Linked DNA regions of Homo sapiens. The protein of the gene in region 1 interacts with the protein of each later gene in a biochemical or structural test. Each region holds a gene or a part of one and is shown on either strand. Other genes may lie near its edges. The genes, in order: SORBS1, ABL1 and KHDRBS1.

Evidence for each region.
Region 2: of the proteins of SORBS1 (region 1) and ABL1, one has a biochemical effect on the other in vitro, tested with the Homo sapiens proteins (one study listed by BioGRID).
Region 3: the proteins of SORBS1 (region 1) and KHDRBS1 interact in a test that uses a peptide from one of them, tested with the Homo sapiens proteins (one study listed by BioGRID).

What each region holds. Positions count from the first base shown.
Region 1 is NC_000010.11:95,337,739-95,341,390, forward strand, and holds part of SORBS1 (sorbin and SH3 domain-containing protein 1), read right to left. Parts: coding exon 3,547-3,652; intron 1,590-3,546; coding exon 1,395-1,589; intron 1-1,394. UniProt on the Homo sapiens protein: Plays a role in tyrosine phosphorylation of CBL by linking CBL to the insulin receptor. Required for insulin-stimulated glucose transport. Involved in formation of actin stress fibers and focal adhesions.
Region 2 is NC_000009.12:130,838,220-130,841,871, reverse strand, and holds part of ABL1 (tyrosine-protein kinase ABL1), read right to left. Parts: intron 1-3,652. UniProt on the Homo sapiens protein: Non-receptor tyrosine-protein kinase that plays a role in many key processes linked to cell growth and survival such as cytoskeleton remodeling in response to extracellular stimuli, cell motility and adhesion, receptor endocytosis, autophagy, DNA damage response and apoptosis.
Region 3 is NC_000001.11:32,041,019-32,044,425, reverse strand, and holds the end of KHDRBS1 (KH domain-containing, RNA-binding, signal transduction-associated protein 1), read right to left. Parts: intron 1,900-3,407; coding exon 1,802-1,899; 3' UTR 549-1,801; downstream 1-548. UniProt on the Homo sapiens protein: Recruited and tyrosine phosphorylated by several receptor systems, for example the T-cell, leptin and insulin receptors. Once phosphorylated, functions as an adapter protein in signal transduction cascades by binding to SH2 and SH3 domain-containing proteins.

The DNA.
Region 1 (3,652 bases):
CCCTGGGGTTTTATTTTCTCTGGGAGCTCAGCAGAGTCTTCCAGAGAGGAGTATGAGTAGTGTACTAGTTTTGTTTTACAATCACTCTTGGCTAGTCAAGTGAAAAATGTAGTTGAGTTCCCTGCATCCTTACAAAGAAGAATGTCCCACTCCAGTCACACACTCTGTCCTATAAGACAACAGGATGCGGCTATCACTGTCCAGGAAGCCCTGGGTCAGCCCGTTTAATGCTTTCTGCCAAGAACCCTCTACTGGGGTCAGTGATGAGCAGGTGGCAGAGGAGGAAACAATTAGAGGACCAGACAAGAGGCACCATCTCAGGGTCAACCTGGGCCCCCAGGTCCTACTCTTGTTCCTCTGCCAACCTCCTTACAACATACATGGTGGTTTGTCCAGGCTCTTTCACAGGGATGTCACCCCCACCGTGTCACCCTGAACTCAAGGTTCTGACATTTTCTTGGCTTTGGGAAAGTGGGGATCAGTTAGGAATAGTTTATATTTCTAAACAAGTTTGTTCATAATTAATGTTTGGGAAAGCCAACATCTTATTACGCCTATAAACCTATATCCTTTCAGCCCACAGAGACTGAGATGCTGTAAGTTACTTGTTCCAATCACCTGGTTCCAGTGAATGCAAATAATACTTTGGATCTGGTCTATATGGCTGATGAGAAGGTGTAAGTCTCTCTTTCAGCCTTTGTCTTCTGCAGGTCAACTTTGGCCAAGATGACTGAGGACCGCATTTGGACCATGGGATTTATGACACAGTGGTGGTACCCACACCAACAGCTTCACCCAAGAGGGGCCAACTGATAAAGGCTCTTGTTTCTCTGTTTCTCTTTCCCTAGTCACCTTATTCCCAGAGCAATTACTTGACTATTCCTTTTCCCTTGAGATATATCTGCAACCAAGCACTGGAAAAGGCCATTTGTATGCATAAAGACAAAGTCCAGTGTACAGTCTGCTTTCCTGCAGTTTTTTTTTTTTTGAGATGGAGTCTCGCTCTGTCGTCCAGGCTGGAGTGCAGTGGCATGATCTCGGCTCACTGCAACCTCTGCCTCCCAGGTTTAAGCGATTCTCCTGCCTCAACCTCCCGAGTAGCTGGGACTACAGGCGCCCGCCACCACGCCTGGCTAATTTTTGAATTTTTGGTAGAGATGGGGTTTCACCATGTTGCCAGGCTGATCTTGAACTCCTGACCTCAGGTGATTCACCCGCCTCGGCCTCCCAAAGTGCTGGGATTACAGGCATGAGCCACCACACCCGGCCTCCTGCAGACAGTTTTTAATTGCAGTGCTCAAAAACCTCCCCAGAGAGGCTGTGTGCCATCAGCACTGTTGACTACAAAAATTCACATGCTGAGTATGAAAACCAGTGACGAGAAGCTTAGATACCTGTGGGCTTGCAGTGGCACTGCGACTTGGGGAGGAGGAGAAAGGCAGGTCCATGTAATCCACAGGGTTTTTCACCAGTGGTCGCTTGATCACATCCACGTAGGTGATGGGGAAGATGCCTTGTCGGGATGTCCCCGGGATCCTCCCTTCGTACCAGTTCTCATCTACCTGCCGGAGCAGTGTGATCCTCTCACCCTGGAAGACACAGCAAAGAGAGGGTCCTTGTCCTAGCATGCCTCTGCATGCCTGGGGCCTCTGCCTGCATGCTTCAATGTCCTGCATTGTTTATCACATCCTTAGCTCAGGAAAAACCTTCCCTGCTGAACCTGGAGGGAATTAACACCACTGGGATGAGGATGCTAATGGCAGAGGAGCTATCTTGATGCTGGGAAGTTCAGCTTGGTTCTTTAAGTATTTTAGTAAAGGAGAACATCAGATTTGTGTCCCTAAGCCAGGGAACAAATGTAGTGTTTTTGACTCATTTAATGTGAAACAGATACCCAATCTTCATTTCTAAGGCAAAGATTTTGGGGGGTTTCACTTTTTCTTTCTTTTGTAGCATTATAGATACTTATAATGTATCATTATAGAAAAATCAGAACACAAACGTAAAGCAGAAAACAATCATCACCCATCACATAGTCATTTGGGGATAAACACTTAATATTTGGCATATGGACTCCCCAGATTTACTTCTATGCATGTGAATTAAACCTGCACATATTTTTTCTTATAAAAATTGAGTATGAACTGTGTTTCCCTTTTCCAACTTGCTTTTTAAAAAATACTTAATAGCACATAGTAAACCTCCTTCTTTATCAAGAAATAGAATTCTAGATTTTTAATGGCATTGCATAGCTTAATGGACCACTGCAGGGTATTCTGTCGCACACACATATAATGATTTAATTACTGATCCCCTGCTGTTGGGCAACTGGGTTGCTTCCAGTGCTTTTTCTAACAATGTGCTCACTTCCCTCAAGCCTCAATAAAATCAGTAACTTAGTAACTTTAGCAAGCCAGAGAATTTTGCCATGTAGAGTGTTTGGATTCTGGAAAGAACAACTTCTCTGCACAATGTAATTATGTTCTGAATAAGCATGATGGTGATAATAATAATACTGGCATCTCCTGTTTACTAAGCACCAACAAGATACCATGTGTCATGCTGGGGGCTTCACATAAGTTGTTTCACCGAAGCCTCTTACAACCACCTAGGAGAGAGCCATCTATCTTCATTTTTTTTCTATAAGAAAATGGTGGCTTGGAAAAAGTATTTAACTCCCACATTCTGCGTAGTTGGTTTGTGCCTTTTGGGTTCAAAGCTTTTCAAACTTCTCCTGGTATCAATGGACCTGTTTTTTCCACTAGGTCACACCAATATATTGTAAAACCCAGTCCCCAACACAATGCATTATGACATCATTAGTTGGTAAGTGTTGGTTGAAAACAGCTTATAAAAGATGTCTAAGACTCCAGAAATACTATGTTTAATCAGTGAGCTCAATATAGTTAAACCCTGATATTAGCCTAGGGTTTATTTTAAAAATACCTTACCTCAGAAAATTCTCCAATTGCCCTTAATGCAATTCTTTTTTTTTTTTTCTTCAGTAGAGATGGGGCCTTGCTACGTTGCTCAGGCTGGTCTTGAACCCCTGGCCTTAAGCGAGCCTCCTGCCTTGGTTTCCCAAAGTGCTGGGATTACAGGCCTTAATGCAATTCTTTTTTTTTTTTTTGGAGACCTATTGCCCAGGCTGGAGTGCAGTGGAGCGATCTCAGCTCACTGCAACCTCTGTCTCCCAGGTTCAAATGATTCTCCTGCCTCAGCCTCCTGAATAGCTGGGATTACAGGAACCCACTACCATGCCCAGCTAATTTTTGTATTTTTAGTAGAGACGGGGTTTCACCATGTTGGCCAGGCTAGTCTCAAACGCCTGACCTCAAGTGATCTACCCACCTCGGCCTCCCAAAGTGCTGGGATTACAGGCATGAGCCACCGTGCCCAGCCCTTAATGCAATTATTGATTGGCATACTTCTCTTAAGGGTACAGACAGCACCCCCAGACTGGGGTGTGATAGCAACACCACGCTTCCCCACATAGCTGCGCCATCCAAGAGAGCCCCAAAGCAAGGCATGAGAAGTGCAGCTTACCTTTCTGAAGGACATTTCTACTTGTGTATCACCATTAAAGTTAAACTTAGCAATAGCTTCTCCATATTCCAAAACCTGCACTGGTGTCAACTTTTTGGGCTGTGCC
Region 2 (3,652 bases), on another chromosome or scaffold:
AAAATATTTATGGTGTAACATGGTAAAGAAAGAAGGATTTGAAAACCAACTTTTTTTTTTGAGCTGGAGTTTTTGCTCGTTGCCCAGGCTGGAGTACAATGGTGAGATCGCGGCTCACTGCAACCTCTGCCTCCCAGGTTCAAGTAATTCTCCTGCCTTAGCCTCCTGAGTAGCTGGGATTACAGGCACTCCCCACTACGCCTGGCTAATTTTTTATATTTTTAGTAGAGACAGGGTTTCAGCATGTTGGCCAGGCTGGTCTCGAACTCCTGACCTCAGGTGACCACCTGCCTCGGCCTCCCAAAGTGCTGGGATTACAGGCGTCAGCCACCGCGCCCGGCCTGAAAACCAATTTCTAGAGCAAGCTTGTTCAACCCATGGCCCACGGGCTGCATATGGCCCAGGACGGCTTTGAATGTGGCCTAACAAATTTGCAAACTTTCTTAAAAACATTATAAGATTTTTGGCCCGGTGCAGTGGCTCACGCCTGTAATCCCAGGGCTTTGGGAGGCCGAGGTGGGCGGATCACGAGGTCAGGAGATGGAGACCATCCTGGCTAACATGGTGAAACCCCCGGGCGCCTGTAGTACCCTCTACTAGGGAGGCTGAGGCAGGAGAATGGCGTGAACCCAGGAGGCGGAGCTTGCAGTGAGCTGAGATCGTGCAACTGCACTCCAGTCTGGGCGACAGAGTGAGACTCTTGTCTCAAAAAAAAAAAGAAATGAGATTTTTGTGGGATTTGTTTTGTTGGTTTAGCTCATCAGCTATCGTTAGTATGTTTTACGTGTGGCCCAAGACAATTTTTCTCCCAATGTGGCCCAGGGAAGCCAAGATTGGACACCCCTGTTCCAGAGTAACGATTCTACCCATCTGAGGACAAAGTTACACTATCAAAACTAAGTAATTATAATTAGCAAGCTATTCTTCCTAATGGCTTTGAAACTGTAACTTTATTATGTAAGAAAACAAGACTGACTATAAGCTGATAATTGTTAAAGCCACATCATAAGTACATGGGAGTTCATTATGCTGTCTACTTTTGAGACAGTTTTAGGCTGGGTGCAGTGGCTCATGCCTGTAATCCCAGCACTTTGGGAGGCTGAGGTGGGAGGATTGCTTGAGCCCAGGAGTTTGAGACCAGCCTGGGCGACATAGTGAGACCCATCTCTATTTTTTTTAATTAAAAAAGAGATAGTTTTAAAAATTGACACTAAAAAAGAACAAACAAACCTATGAATTTATTTTATAAATTGTTCTTCTGTGTGTTTAATTAAGATCCACCATTATGGAGGAAAAGTTAAAGTCTTCCAATATCCCATTTGATCTTTAGTTCTTATGTATTTAAGAAAGCTACCCATTGATTTATTTTCTGCTTTTATTTCAGATCAATGATTATACTGGCACAATTACAATGACTTGATTTTACAAGGTGGTAAGTGGCACCAGATTTTCAGTTTTCACGTTTGAGGCTGTGGAAATATTGTCTCTGGACAGGAGAAATAAAATGCCAACCATGAGCCAATGGGAATTTCTCTTCCACAATGAAAATATTCACTACGGGAATAACAGAGGGTGCGAGGAAGAGAAGACATTTTTCAGCCAAAAATCAAGGACAGGAAGTATTAATTATACGCATCAAAACACACTTAGAAACAAACTGCTTTATTAGCAAGAAAAACTATGGGTGGGATTGGCTGAATTCTGTCATCACTTCAACCATTACAGAAACTGGTAAAGCCACCATTTTAGGCTGCTAAATATTTGCTTAAAGTAACAACAGCTTACTTTTCTGCTAGGCTCTTGTTCTGTGCCAGGCTCCCTGCTAAACAATTTACATGAAGTCTCTCAACAACTCAGTGAGGTAGGGATTACTACAGGCCTTATTTTAGAAATGGGAACACCAAGGTACAGTGAGCCTCGGTGAATGCGCAAGACCAGCCAAGAGCACAGGTGGCATTTGGGTCCAGACTGGCTGGCTCGGGAGCTGCCTGCCTGTGCAGAAGAATGAGACCCTAGGAACGCTGTGTGAGCCATAAACCTGCCTGGACTAAAGAGCATCTCAGAGGAATCTCGTATCAACATAACACAAACATACATTTAACTCTTACCAGTTTCAGAGCTTTCCCTCAATCATCTTATAGACCCTCAAAACAATCCTCTAAGGTGGCTGAACAGAGATTGGTCTCTCTGTCTTAGAGGTAAAAACACGGAAGCTCAGAGAGGTCAGAGGAAAACTGGGATCTCCTGCCTCCAAATTGAAAAGTACTGCCACCTAAACTGGGGCCCTTCCTCTTTTCTAGAAACCTCAGGGCACTGGTGTGAAAATTAAGTGAGGCTGCACATGATGTGCTCAGTGCCAGGGCCTGTGACATTGTAAATGGTCAACAATGTTAATAGCACCCAAAATGAAATGGACAGACTGGCCTTTTATTAGGTAACAGAAAGAGTCTCACTTTCTTTGTTACTGAACAAGGGAAGTATCTGATGACCTCAGGAGAGAGCAGAAAGCAAGCATAAGCTTCTCCAAAGCTCAAGTTCTAAAAGCGTATCTGTATGGCTGGCACCACATGAAGCATCCGCTGGAAAGTTAGCTGCTGAAAAGAAGCATTTAAAAGTGGGCCCTTAAAATAAATTTCGAAAGTTCAGGCTGAGTGCAGTGGCTCATGCCTGTAGGGATGCACTTTGGGGAGGCCAAGGTGGGAGGATCACTTGAGGCCAGTAGTTCAACACTGGCTTGGCCCGGGCAAACTAGTAAAAATAGTGAGACCCTGTCTCTACAAAAAAAAAAAAAAAATTTTAATTAGTCAGGTAGCATATGCCTGCAGCCCCAGCTACTTGGGAGGCTGAGGTGGGAGGGTTGCTTGAGACCAGGAGCTCAAGGCTGCAGTGAGCTGTGATTGTGCCACTGCAGTCCAGCCTGGGTGACAGAGCAAGACCCTATCTCCAAAAGCAACAATAACAACAACAACAAAAAGTTCAAGAAGAGTTCAGTTCACAGACATTAGTTTTTGATTCTACAGTACACAACTGTCACATACATGTACAATATTCAGGCACAATGTATGTAAATACAAACACATGAACAAATGAAAATAAAATGAAAAGAAAACCCTGAATTCAAAAGGCTAGTGTTCATGTTTTCTTTGACGTCTCCAGGGGAAAGAAATAATCAGAAAATTCAGTGTTCAAAGTAGACCGAATATTGCAAAGCTAAATGCGGTCCTGGTGAATAGATACTGCTATAAACATGCATATTCACAAAAAGCTGGAGAGCAAAATTCACATGTTATAATAAATGCTTATATGTGCACACAGTATTTCTAGAAGGACACACATAAAACTCCAGGGTGATTGCCTCTAGGTGGGGAAAATGAATAGGAGAGGGAATTACTTTTCACTAAATACCCTTTTAGGATTTCTTACATACAAGTATTTTTATATACATTTAAAAAAAATTAATCCTACTGTTAAAGCTAATCATTTTGCCAGGATCAGGTTTCTAGAAAAGAAAAAGAGACTACCCTTACATTTCAGGGATTAATTGGAGGAGTTTCTGGAGATACCATTTTGAAAATCACAGTGAATTCCAAAAGAGACATCAGTAGAGCATCCAGTGGCTAAAAGTGGGCTCTCCCAAGCCAGATAGCATGAG
Region 3 (3,407 bases), on another chromosome or scaffold:
CAGAGCCAGCCTATCATGCCAAATCCTGCCCCAGCCCAGCTGAGTTATCAGCATTTCTGGGATTGAAAGAGAAACCCTCAAGGGCACCCAGAGTTGGCTGAACTGTCATGCCTAAAGGCAGATGCTGTCCCCTTCTGAGCTCACAGAAATTATTTGGTGTCACACTTTAGAGCCACCTAGGGGTTCTACAGAAGGTGCAAACCAGGCTGGCTTGCACTTTTAAATACTGAGACCTATCTATGGAAACCAATCCAAGTTTCAGCTCAGTTGAGTTGAAAACTCTCCATAAATTAGAATTTTTGATAGGATTGGATACAACAGCTTCCAACAACTTCCAGGGGGTGAAAAAGCTTTGGTTATTTTTAAACTAAAACTTAACAACTCCATCAACTTTTTTTTGGTAAACTTAAAATAAAATCCCCCCCACCACTTTTAAGAATGTTTCCAACTTTTAACAAGCCCATTAACTTTAGAGTTAATTTAAGTTTATTTGAAAGAGAAAACTATTTTATGGTCCACCCAAAAAAATGACAATTCATCACATTTACTTTGATTAAAAAAGGACTAAACTTTATTGACAAACTGCTGCAGACATTTTGACATAAGTTTAAGCTACCTATTTAGGCAGACTTACACATGTAGCATTTAATCTTCCGAGAACAAAATGGGAGGACGGTACAAATCCAATTAGGACTTTAACTTATGTACAAAGTGGATTTTGATTCCTTTTTCATTCAGCTGCAGTGTCCCTTTTTATATCATGCTAGTGTTGAGACATACTTGACTAACTTGGGAACAGTTCGATATATTGACAACCGTCAACTTAAGAAAATCAACAGCTTTTGGCCCCAGCGTCCAAGTGAACTTTTCATGGAGTGCAGAATCTCAAATGGACAAAATACTTTGTCTTTTTAAATACTGAAAATTTAATTATTAGTACTATGACTGAAAGATTCTTCATGGCTAAAAAGCTCTGCATCAAACTCAATTCAGGAGGCCTTCCCTCCCCACCACCATCAACCTCTTCAAAACCTACTCCCTCCCTCTAAGTATCTCTCAACACAGTATGTCTGGGGCTAGATTTCAAAACCCACGTAATGAAAAAGTCAGTTTTACAAGCCTAATTTTGTTGTTTTTTTTTTTATATCAATTAACGTTAAAAATTGCATCAACTATTTAATTCATGAGGATCTTTCATATTAAAATTTAACCTTAAGATTCAACCGCCATGTGCTTTTATAAAGGAAACATTTTTTAGAGACGTCTGAGCTCACTTTTACATGGTGGTGCCTACTGCCGTTAATGTTTGTGATTTTAAATCTTAAACAGCCCTGAATTTTGAAATGTAGCCTAGTTTGGGATTCTGCAACTACAACTTTACGGGATGCCTCAAATCAAAACTAAGAGAAACTTAACAAGCCTTTACTTCAGAACCTTTAAGCAAGCAATGTCATTTTTGAAACTAACAGGTTTGTGTGTTTTTTTTTTTTACTCAACTTCTTTTTTTTATTATAAAAGGTACACTTCTGTTTATATTTAAACAACAAAGAAAAAAGCATCTACACACTTAAAAAATTAATTCAATATTCCTAAATCTATTTTAACTCATTTTAAAATACTACATACAGAAGCCAGAATGCAGAGTTAAGAATGGAATAAGGTGGGGAGAAGAAGGGGACCACGAAGAAAAACACTTAGACAATTACTTGTCTGTTGTGGGTAAAGCAACAGGAATCCTGGGAGATACAAGAAATCAGTAACAACTTTGCTCATAACTGATATTTTCCCCTCATGTTTGTTTTTAATAACGTCCATATGGGTGCTCTCTGTATGCTCCCTTCACTGGCCTAGCAGGAGGGGCCTTCAGCGACGGCCTGGTCCCATTCCAGTCGTCCTGGCCTGTGGGGAAAACAAAGACAGTTTATAAACCATGTGGCGACAGCACTTAGGGATAAGCAGGGATAGGTCACATAGTAAAGATCACCAAAAACACTGAGTTTCTTCTAATGTCTTGACACTTCCCCTGGTGTTCCTTGCTCTCTACTTGGCTTGGCCCTCTTGGGCAGCCTGGGCAATTTTTCAGTTTTGAGTGGAAGGACAGAAGGGAACAAATCTAAAAAGGCTGCCATTGACTCTGGAGTAATCTCCCACAACGAGGTTCTTCATAGACAAATGTGATCTGTACGCCAGTCCCCAAACCTGGAGATACCCAACACCTTGCTTGAGATAGTGAGGAACTCATTAATCTTAGTGAGTCTGCAATGGCCTTTCCTGTTCCCAAAACAATTTGGCAGGCACCCTCAGGTAAGGTGGGAAGACTTCTGGAAGTCTTTCAGATTGGAAGCAGGCAGCCAGCCCCACTTCCATGCAACAGCAAGTCACGTTTCCTTACGGAGAAGTGTCCTCTAGCTCCCTGGGAAAACCAAGCAAGGGCCACTTTCCATGGGGCCCTCCACCAGCAGAGCTGATACTGCTCTCTCTGGTAGAGGGATGTGCAATCAAATGTTGCACTGACAGCACTGTTTAAGATAATTCCAAGGCTGCATGCGGTGGCTCACGCCCGTAATCCCAGCACTTTGGGAGGCCAAGGCAGGCAGATCACAAGGTCAGGAGTTCGAGACCAGCCTGACCAACAGGGTGAAACCCCATCTCTACTAAAAATACAAAAATTAGCCAGGCGTGGTGGCGCATGCCTGTAATCCCAGCTACTCAGGAGGCTGAGGCAGGAGAAGTGCTTGAACCTGGGAGGCAGAGGTTGCAGTGAGCTGAGATTGTGCCACTCCACTCCAGCCTGGACAACAGAGCCAGACTCCATCTCAAAAAAAAAAAAAAAAAAAAAAAAGGATAATTCCTTATCTCCTTTCTTAAGTCAACAGGTGAGAGAAGCCAGAAGCCAGACAATGTGGTTCACATCCTCAAATGGTTCTCCTTTGTGACAGGGAAAAGCCTGAGGAATATGATCACATAATTCTAGAGGTGACCTCTTATGAAAATAAATTGCGTTAAATTTATTCTTCCCACACCTTACACACGCTAGTTCATCCCTGAAGTATTTTTCCAGCTGCCTGTATTCACAAGTATCTGCCTCCATCTCTATAGGCCTCAAACTCCTATACAGATCTAAAGTCACACAGAACCCTAATTATACCCCTAGTATAACACACATGTCCATCACTTTCCAAGTGGCTTCTGGGTATCAACAAGACAGTTTCTTTTTCTTTTTTTCCTGACGTATACAGATCATCCTGGACAGTTTATTTCTCTAATTCTGTTAATCAAAGCAGAGATCAGAACGGATTAACTGTGGCAACGTCGTATCAGGAGCACAAAGAGAAGCCTGCCTCTTTCAGTTTGGTCTTTTCTCCAGCAAAACAGAAATGCAATTTAGTCAAACACATACAGAGGCC